Homo sapiens: one gene and its partner. The protein of the gene in region 1 interacts with the protein of each later gene in a biochemical or structural test. Each region holds a gene or a part of one and is shown on either strand. Other genes may lie near its edges.

Region 1 (5,458 bases):
AAATTAAAACATATAAAATGAGCACAATAAATTACTCACACCCCCAGTGAAAACTATTATATTAATTTGATAGGGTTTTTTTTTTTTCTTCACACAGAAGAAAGCTATTAGTGCTCCATGTAAACAAGCACGCCCAATTCAAGTTGGAACTCTTTAAATTCTGGAAGACAGCACATCACATCCAGCCACGAGGGGGCGCAGCCGAGCAGCAAGGAGCGCAAAAGTCTCATTCTTCACTGCAATTTCTACCTACAGCTCTCTCAAAGTATACACATTTTCAAGATTGTTTCCAAATTCAGGTATCCACAGGACACTGCTAAGCAAGCTGGGAGCTTTGCCAAGGCCAAAATAAATTAAATTATGGTACGGTTCAAACTCTGGAAGTACTGTGTATAGGAAAGGTTGTTTCTCTGTATATAAAAGTTAATACTGGTATTTCAAAAACCATGGTTAAAATCCCTGGAGGATTCCTGAAATGAGAACAAACACACAACAACAAACACACACCCAAGTCATGAGATGTGAACGTGGAGAAACCAACAGTTCAGAATTTCCAGTGGGGCTTGCAACATGGACTCCCAATAAAACAATGAGTCTCAATAAATTCGGCACTAAGCTTTTACCAGTATAGATAGACGCCTTTACTGGGCCTACTTACTACTTCTTAATAACTATAAATTATCTCCATACTGAACAGATACTGCTTCAGGCAGTTATTTGGGAAAACCCTTCATAAAGGACATTGGAGAGGGGCCATTTAATTATAAAATGTAACACAGTTAACCTTAGGGAGATGATGAAGCGAGATCATTATGTGTAACTACTTGCTGGGATTCTTTCTATTTAAATTATAAGTTCAGGTTATATGATGTTGTATGTTCAATAATAATGCTCATAATAGATGAAATGTTATAATGAGTCTCCACATTTGAAAATTGGAAACTATAAACATATCTATATTTTATAATCATTTGAATTGTGATACTACTTCATAATAATTTGGTGTCAGAGTATGTTTTTAGCATTTTGAGTCTAAGGCCTCATTAACATTAGGGTAAGGAACTCTCAGATTTGACAATTTTTCCCATAAGATTACGTGCTTTACTAGTAAAGACTAGCCAGCATTGCCCAACCTCCCATTCTCGGGCATAATGAAAATATTTTTTCTCCTGTATTTATAATTGCTTGGATGGGATTCTGTTTCAATCCTCCTGTAGCATCTTTTCCCTAAAGATACACTGTTTTTCTCCCTCACACTAGAGACCCTTAATAAACAATGTCAAGGAGGTGGGGAACTTAGAGTAGAAAGGAAAGGCTTTGCCAAAAGTATGTGACAGTTTTTGTGTTTAAAAAAAAAAAAAAAGACTCAAGATATATGTAAGTCTTACTAAAACAGGGAAATATAAGGTTTTAGAACAATTCTGTGAAAGATAAAATTACATCTTAGTTAAAACCAAAGGTGGCCTTCTAGGTTTTATTAGACAACTATTTGCCACTGAATAAAACTAAGGAATAAAAGTAAAGTATGCTACTTCAAGAAATGCTTCAATGGAAGCTTTTCTTAAAAGTTAAAAATTAAAAACTAGTCATGCCTTCAAATCTGGATGCTTCATTACTATCAAAGAATCACTTAAAATATTCCTTACAAATACAGAACATATTTCATCTTATAACTTATCCGTGCAGTCCAAAGAGGAAAACCTGAGAAATGTTGTTTCTTTTACTTACTGTGTAAAACTGAACATTGTATTGTACGGCCTAAACTTGGATTCCCTAGAGAACAATATCACATTTCTACAACATGACATGAGTACAAAAATTTGAGGTGCAGGATAATAGAAATATACTTGAGACATGCAAATGGAAGGAAATAACTATTTTATGTAATACCTGTCCCATGTAAGTAACCTACATGTTCCGAATGTTTAATTTGGTTGCCTCTAAGAATTAGGTAGGCTAATAAGGTTTTACAAAGACAATTTAAACTTTGTATCATATACCTGAATAATTCACACACAGACAATAATTGTAGAAAGAAAAAGGCAATGAGGATACAACTAAACTTGAGGGGAGTAAATGATACTTTGTAAATATGGCAGCCATTAAAGAATAACTACTTTGGGACTATTTTGAGATAAAATGTTTGTCTTCCCAAGGACTTCTGTGCATTGATAATGAATGGCTCATTGAACTTTAAGCTATGTCACTTAAATACAATAAAAATAATCAGAGTACCACACTAAATGTAATAACTATTTATTTTCTAAGGAAAATACTTCATAATTCTTCAATTACCTTCAATGGTCTTCATGGAAAGCCTTCCTCAACCTCCCCAGCCTGCCACCCCCAGCCTGCCACTCTATTCATTCTACCTGTCTTCTGGAGCTTTAGAAGGAGGCAGGAACCACCTGAAGAATTGAATTTTTAATGTGTAAACCAACTACTTGTCAGAGAGCTAAGAATCACTGCCAGTGAAACGTATTTTATTTTATATTTCTGGACATGGTAAAACTATTTAAAAAAATTAGTTTGCCTTAAAAAGTTCAGAAAAGACCACCAAGTTCCTGACAAGCAGAGAGGCAGAGCAAAAATTCTTCCACTCTGGATCATAGCACCCAAATTCCTCAGGCAGATTGGTTTTCTCTGATAGCACGGAAGACACAGGAGAGGTACAGATGGGCAGGGAGATGTCCCCTCAAAGAAGGAAAGAAATCTGAAAAGCAAATCTGTATCACCTATTATAAAATGGGATAACCACACAGGGAAGATCAGTTTAAAGCAGCTGCCAGCTCGATATCTCATTAGCGTGACTAGGATTTTATGCAAACCTGTTCTGGTGTAGAGATGACCTTGGGACTTTCAGATTCTCTGAGTTTAACTTGGGCAATACTTCTAAACACAAGGGTGGGGTACACCAGCAGGCCTGCTCCAAACCCCAGGAGCTGCAGTGCATGGCGTGGAATGATAAGCAGCCGGCCGGAGCAGAGGCAAGCAAAGCGCTAAAGGCTGATCTGGAGCAAGAGACTTTTGATCATTTAGTGTTTTTGACCATGGTCTATTCAAGTGTACATTTTACTTTTCTTCAACAGGTTCACTCAGCCCACTGTTAAACATCAGTGAGTGTGCATATGGATATACAGAATATATAGACATAGATCATGTCTGTAAGAACCAGAATCCCTTCCCCTTTACTATTCTATGGGAAAGTCCTTAGAGAATGCTTAGCTTCTTTTCAGTTAACTGCCTAGGAAGGTTTTTAAAGGAAAAAAGCTTAGAATTAATTAGTAACTCTGCAAAGCTACAGGTTTTTGTAAAGTGACAAAAAAGATAGTAAGGCAGACATGAATGAGTTTTAAGAACTGAAGTTTGCTGCTACCTGGAGTTACTAGAGAAACAAAGCTGCCTTTGGGCACCTCAAACTAGTCAGACCTGCTATAGCAGTTGCACAGTCAGCTCCAGATCTGTCCTCTGCTCTTCTCCCTCCAGCCCCCACCCCACGCCTCCGCATAGCTCAGTCCACTCTCTACTCAGGGTGGAGGTGGGCCGGGCACACTCACCCCTTGATCTGCTGTCCCTGTGGGGAGGCAGGGCCAGCTCTGGCCAGACAGTGTGCAAGTGTAAGAATAGGCCGGCCAGGAGCACAGATGCCAACTCCATTCTGAGCTGAAAACTGCAATGGGTGCGGAATACAGCTTAGGTGATCTTGGGTTTCCAAAATAGATCAATCAAATTGTGGGGTTTACTTCAGAGAATCCTAGCATTAAGTTCAGATGAGGGACAGAGGATTCTGAGAAAAGACAAATGGGTCTTTCCAGCTTTGGGATCCCTCAGACCACAAAGAGGGCAGAATTTTCAAAAGAGAGTTTGCGCTGTCTATATGTGGTGCTTGTTCAAACTGGCAGTATCTGTTCTGTCCTATTAGAAATCATATATTATAAAATATATTGTGATATTTTACTTTAAAATTTTCATTTGTATTTCAAAGAAAATTTTTAGACAGCCAATCATGTTTTGTTTGTCTCGTGATCTCCGAGAAAAAAAAAACAAAACAAGGAGTCTATTTATTACTCAGAATAGGAATGTCGTCTTATTGGGCTGACATATGCCATTCACAGATTCATACAAAGAATGAACTGCCACACAGTGCTAATGGAGAAAGACACTGCTCCACACAATGAGTGACGGACGCTCCAGGGGACAGTTCTGTTCATAAGGGTTTCCCAGCATCTGCACACAGGGCATAAGTTTGCCTTTAATATCAACTGCACTGGCCATTTGAGACAATCATTTTTTCTAGATTAGTAGCCATTTCCTTCAAACATACTAAAACTAAATGAAATAGCCACACATTTCTTAAACAGGAGTCCTGGCTTGTGGCTTTCTACCAATTGCTTAATGAGTAATTATTAACAATATGTACAAAATATATGAGTTGTGCATATAAAGTGGCCATGGCACTTTTAGATTTTCATGTTTTGCTAGTCAGTATTAATTAACAGAAAGACCTATGAGAGCTGGTGTCACCCTTATTGTGAGGCCATTTTCATGTCAACTGGAGCTTGCCTTCTGGTGCCTTCAGTACACAACTGATCTTTGGACTCAGTAATCAGAGACGGCGCCTGCGCTTGCTCTCTCTCTCACGCACCAAGTAACTATTGCAACTAGAGCTATCTCCTATAGGATATGCCATGACAGTGAATACAAAATTTCTGTTGCCAAGAAGCTTTAAAAATTCTATGAGTGAATTAAAGTTCATGGCCCCAAATACGCCTATCTATATATAGCTTTTTCCACAGGTAATATTGACAAAGTGGTCTTGATTCTGTTGATATATGTGAAATATAAAATAAAGCTTCATACTTTTTTTTCTGTGCTTTTTAACAAGAAACCACAGCAAAAGAAACCTCTCAAAGTTTCTGTTCCAGCTTTCACCTTTCTTAGTTACTAAAATGTAAAATATTTTGTCTGAGGGTAAACTTGTAGTATAATTGGACACTGATAATAAAAGTAGCATGCTGCAAGTTGATAGAAATTTTTATGTATTTGCATTCGAACATCTTCAAACTGCCTTCATACGTTTTGTAATGTTTTTTGTGTGTGATGCATGTGTGTGCCTTTCTAAAGTAGTGTTGTAACTTACTCTGCCATTGGAACCCTGTTTAAAATAGCAGATACCATAAGCTATCAGTCGCCACACAAATTTGAATGAGTTTTAAAATATCAAAATATGTGCTATTTTACTAGGCTCATTATCAGTAATAATTCAGTGTGTAGCAACTGGGCAAAATTCATATTTTAGCTTCTCAATTAAATAGAAAAGCTTTAAAGAGGGACAATTCAGCAAACAGAAGTGTAAAGATTTTCTAAATCTGAATTAATATCCTTCTCTTAGTTCTTCAAGGGAAACAAGCTTGAGCAGCTGTTACCTAAGACGCTGTGACATTCGCCTGACAATAAA
Region 2 (4,845 bases), on another chromosome or scaffold:
TTACAGGCTGAGCCACCGCGCCCGGCCTCATGTATATATTCTTAACACCTCTTTTTAAAGAACAGTTTTCTTTCCAGAGAATATCTGTTGACCTACACTCAACCATAGCTGGAAGCACAACCATGTGCCAGCACTTATGCTCCCCATCTTATTTAATCTGCCTAGTGGTTTGCAAGTAGATGCTCCACAAACAGCTCTTCAAGGAAGGAAGGCCCTAACTGGTGACACTTCATCTCATTAGTCCAGAACTGGCTATCCAGGTAACCAGGTGCCATGCTAGTCAACTTCAAGCTACCAACATATGGAACAACCAGCTCACAAAACTCCTGAAAATTTAACAATTTTCTTGTGCATTCCAGTACAAGCCAGCTCTAGTACACTACTAAATATTAATATATCCAAAATATTTTCAAACATGTGACTGCATCCTGATGTAGTTTGAATGTGTGACCCCTCCAAATCTCATGCTGAAATGCAATCTCCAATGTTGGAGGTGGGGCCTAGTGGGAAGTGTTGGATCATCAGGGCAGACCCCTCATGAATGGCCTAGCACCATCCCCTTGTTGATGAATGAGTTATTGCTCAGTTAGTTCATATGAGATTTGGTGGTTTAAAGGGGTCTGGCTCCTCCTCCTCACTCTCTTGTTCCCTCTCTCACCATGTGATGTGCCTGCTCCCACTTCACCCTGCACCATGAGTATAAGTTCCCTGAGGCCTCCCCAGAAGCTGAGCAGATGCTGATGCCATTCTTGTACAGTCTGTGGAACTGTGAGCCAATTAAAGCTCTTTTTTAAAAAAATAAATTACCCAGTCTCAGGTATTTCTTTGTAGCAATGCAATAGACTAGTACAAATCCCCATTTTATAGCTGAAAAAAACCTAAACTCAGCTAATCTGTAATGTTACTAAATCCCTAAAAAACTATAGTCTTAAGCCCTCACAGACTGGACATCTAGGAGGAAATGGAAAGATCAATTTTAGGAAGAGATTTTTCTATTACAACATTCTGGTTCTCTGAAGTATCCTCAATGTCATAAAATAAATATTTAAAGAAACATGACAAATTGAAAATTAACACTGTAATATAATCTCCAAGCCATTTCTTCATTTCCTGGAAGCTGTCAGAAATGTCTTAAGACAGGTATGTCTTAAGAAATGTCATTGCCTTGCATGCCCTCAGATGCAAGGCAATGAGATGACAGCAGCATTTTTACCAAAAATGCCTTACTTGAATCTAATCCTTAGTAAACAATCAACAAATCCAAAAAGAGGGACCTTATACAAAACTAGCGACCAAGACTCTTCACCAATGGCAGTGCTGCAAAAGACCAAAACAAGGCTGGGGAGTTGTTTTAAAGGAGACTAAACAAATGAAGAGATAAGAATTAAATGCAATGCACAATCCCTAACTGATCCTTCAACAACAACAAAGGTTATAACTGACATCATCTGGCTATATGGGAAATTTAAATACGGTTTTATATTAGGCCAGAGGTCAGCAAACTTTTCAGTGAAAAGCCAGATAATAAATATTTCATACTTTGCAAGCCACACATTCCCTGTCTCAATTATTCAAATTTACTGTTGTAATGCAAAGACAGCTGCAAACAATATGTTTCAATAAAACTTTATTTGAAAAAAACAGCCAGTGGAGCAGATTTGGCTTGCAGGCTGTAATTCACCAACCCTGTATTAGAAAATATTGTAACCAGGCTAAATTTTCTAAGAGTAATGACTGCATTGTGGTTATGTAAGAGAATAGCTTCCTTATGAGATACAGTACATGCAAAAATAGTTAGGGGTGAAGTATTATGACATGTGTTTTTAATTCTGAAATGGTTCCAAATGGTTCATGGGGAGTGGGGAGAGAAAGAAAAAGAGCATATGGGGAGGCGCAGAGAGAAAGAGAGGTAGCAAATGTGGCATAATGTTAACTGCTGAATCTCAGTAAAGAGTCTATGGATTTTTATTACAGAATTTCTGCAACATTTATGAGGGCTTGAAATTTTTCAAGATAAAAAGCTGGGAATGATGCCTTCAACTGTGAGATTATTAGTAAGTGGACCTGTGATGTGATATTCATCAAGGGGAATTACCTCTTGATCAGTTGTTCCTGCCCTCTCCACACTGACCACCAGGTTAAATGCAAACCAGGGTAGCATAACATGTTAACTCTCAGCATTAGCATCCCCACTTCTGACAGCTGGAGTGGCCAGGAGAGCAGAAGAGGTCTACCAGCTGGCTGCCCAGGTTTACCCTGCTGACCTCTGGTCCAAGCATTGCTGCAGGGTCCGTGATGGTAGACATAACCTCGTTGATTAATTCCATCGGAATATCCCCCATAACTCGGGGTTTCTTGGCCTCCTCCAGAACATGAGAATCAGTCATTTTCCTCTTTTCTCCTATGATGATCAAAATAAAAGGCAAACAATGGGTGGTTCTAAACACAAAACAAATAATACACGCCAACTAATTTTCTAACAGCATTGATGGGCATGGAGGTCAACTCTATCTTTACCACCAGGGGAAGGGGTGACAAAGGAAGACAGGAAAGAGAGCCATTGTGAGCTCACAATAACTGCCAACCCAATTCATTGTGAATATTTTCTACTTTCTATGATGATTTTTAACTAGATACATGAAATATTAAGGCACATGTTCCTTCATCTGCAAATGCAAAGGGGTGATTCTAGCTATTGTTTGTTAGTACTCTCTAATATAGTCTCTTCAAGGTCAGAGAACATGGTCCATATGACACCAAAACGTCAAAATGGATTGAAATTTTTACCTTATGACCTAAAATAAGACCAATCTTTTGTAAATGTGCAGTGTCTTCTTGGAAAGAATGTGTATTTTCATATTTTGATCTCTATAACTCCATTAGCTTCAGCTTACAGATCATGTTGTATGGATATCAGTAAGAGCCTTACTGATATTTTTGTCTGTTTGACCTATGAATTACTCAGTTGTTTGTTTAAAGCCTCAACCGTTGGTTGATTTGATTATTTCTCCTTGTAGTCATGTTAATTCCACCCCGCCCCCACCGGCACCCCACCATATATGTACGGAAATCAGTTTGCATTAGGCTTTGGGCTTTATTGGTTAGTTATTGCTATGTAATAAACCAACCCCAAATGAGTCTTAAACCATAATAACTTACTATCATAGCTCATTCATTTCGTATGTTTCCTGATGGGTGGCTGATTTCAGCTCATCTCATTCAATCTTGGCAGGCTTGTTCATGAGTCTACCCACTGATTGGAATCTCTGTGCTGGGCTTGGCTATACACACACACACACACACACACACACACACACACACACACACACACACACATATGCATATGTGTATGTATGCATATATATTATGTATATATAGCTATATATTTGAAATATACCATAAATTATTTTTAATAAACAAATTTATGGATTTAATTTTCTATTATAAAATGACACACTTTATCTTTTACAATGCTTTTTTGCCCTAAAATGATGCCTCACAAAGTGAGCAGGACCACTAGCCTATCAAGTAGATGCAATCTCACCATTCCACACAATAGGAGAGCCATGCAAAGGCAGAGAGAACTTTCTTCCGCTTTCCTCATGAGATTGCATGGTAGTTTTTTTCTCCTTTCTATTCTCATGTTTGGTTTTTCCAGTTTTTTCCAGACATAACATGTATTTATTTTTACAAGTAAATTTTTTGAATTTTTAAGATGTCTAGATCTAATTTATTTCCTCACATGTGAATCCCACTGCTATCTCAATATAACATTCTCCACATAGCATTCTCACTATCTCTAGTTGAAAAGGAGCAGAACAGTATAAAGTAACTTGACTGTAGACGATTCTTCCAGAAGTATTACATATTATTTACTAAATCACTTTTGTCGAGTTCTTTTTTTTACAATTTTTTGTTGTTTGTTTTTGGAGACAAGTAACAATATTTTCAGACATCTGACCAATAAGTCCTCAAATTCCATGATTCCCTAAGAGTAATGCTGAAAACTATTTATTTCGTAGCTGGGGTTTGTACTTGATATGCCCTCTGCTTGTTAGACTGCTAATGGTGTTTATGATTTTTTTTAAAAAGTCTGAGGCTGAATCCAAGCTCACTGGTAAAGAGTTTCTGCATGAATTAGTGATATCTCCCTTGGAAGTGAAAGGGAATGGTGGCATATGCTAAATATATGGCACTTCTTATATTATAAGGTCCTCTTCTTTCCCTCTTTCATGGTACTTCTTTTATTTAAAAATTTGGTCACATCCAAGATTTGTCTGACGTCAAGTCTGTGGACAGAAATGCAACCTTCAAAACATTCTCTAACTGTGAAATGCTTCTAGGCTCAAGAGATATTTTTGCCCATGTGGTAGATTACATTAATGGCCAAATTCTTTACCCTCCTGGTATCTACACTCTTTGCTATGTGACTTTGCAGTTATTCCTACGAAAGGAATAGACTACCTTTTTCCACTTCTCCACCTCTCAACTCTGAGTTCAACTACGTGACTTGCTTTGGACGACAGAATGAGGCAGAAGTCAGCAGGGTATGGTGGCTCACACCTATAATCCCAGCACTTTGGGAGGCCGAGACAGGTAGATTACCTGAGGTCAGGAGTTTGAGACCAGCCTGACCAATATGGCAAAAACCCATCTCCACCAAAAATACAAAAATTAGCAGGGCATGATGGTGGGCACCTGTAATCCCAGCTACTCAGGAGACTGAGGCAGGAGAGTCACTTAAACCCAGGAGGCAGAGGTTGCAGTGAGCTGAGATCACACCACTGCACTCCAGCCAGGGTGACAGTGTGAGACTCTGTCTCAAATAAAAAGAAAAGAAAAGGA

Evidence for each region.
Region 2: the proteins of SERTAD2 (region 1) and KAT2B form a complex in vitro, tested with the Homo sapiens proteins (one study listed by BioGRID).

The regions. Positions count from the first base shown.
Region 1 is NC_000002.12:64,646,328-64,651,785, forward strand, and holds part of SERTAD2 (SERTA domain-containing protein 2), read right to left. Parts: intron 2,240-5,458; exon of another isoform or gene 98-2,239; intron 1-97. UniProt on the Homo sapiens protein: Acts at E2F-responsive promoters as coregulator to integrate signals provided by PHD- and/or bromodomain-containing transcription factors.
Region 2 is NC_000003.12:20,120,224-20,125,068, reverse strand, and holds part of KAT2B (histone acetyltransferase KAT2B), read right to left. Parts: intron 2,402-4,845; coding exon 2,265-2,401; intron 1-2,264. UniProt on the Homo sapiens protein: Functions as a histone acetyltransferase (HAT) to promote transcriptional activation. Has significant histone acetyltransferase activity with core histones (H3 and H4), and also with nucleosome core particles.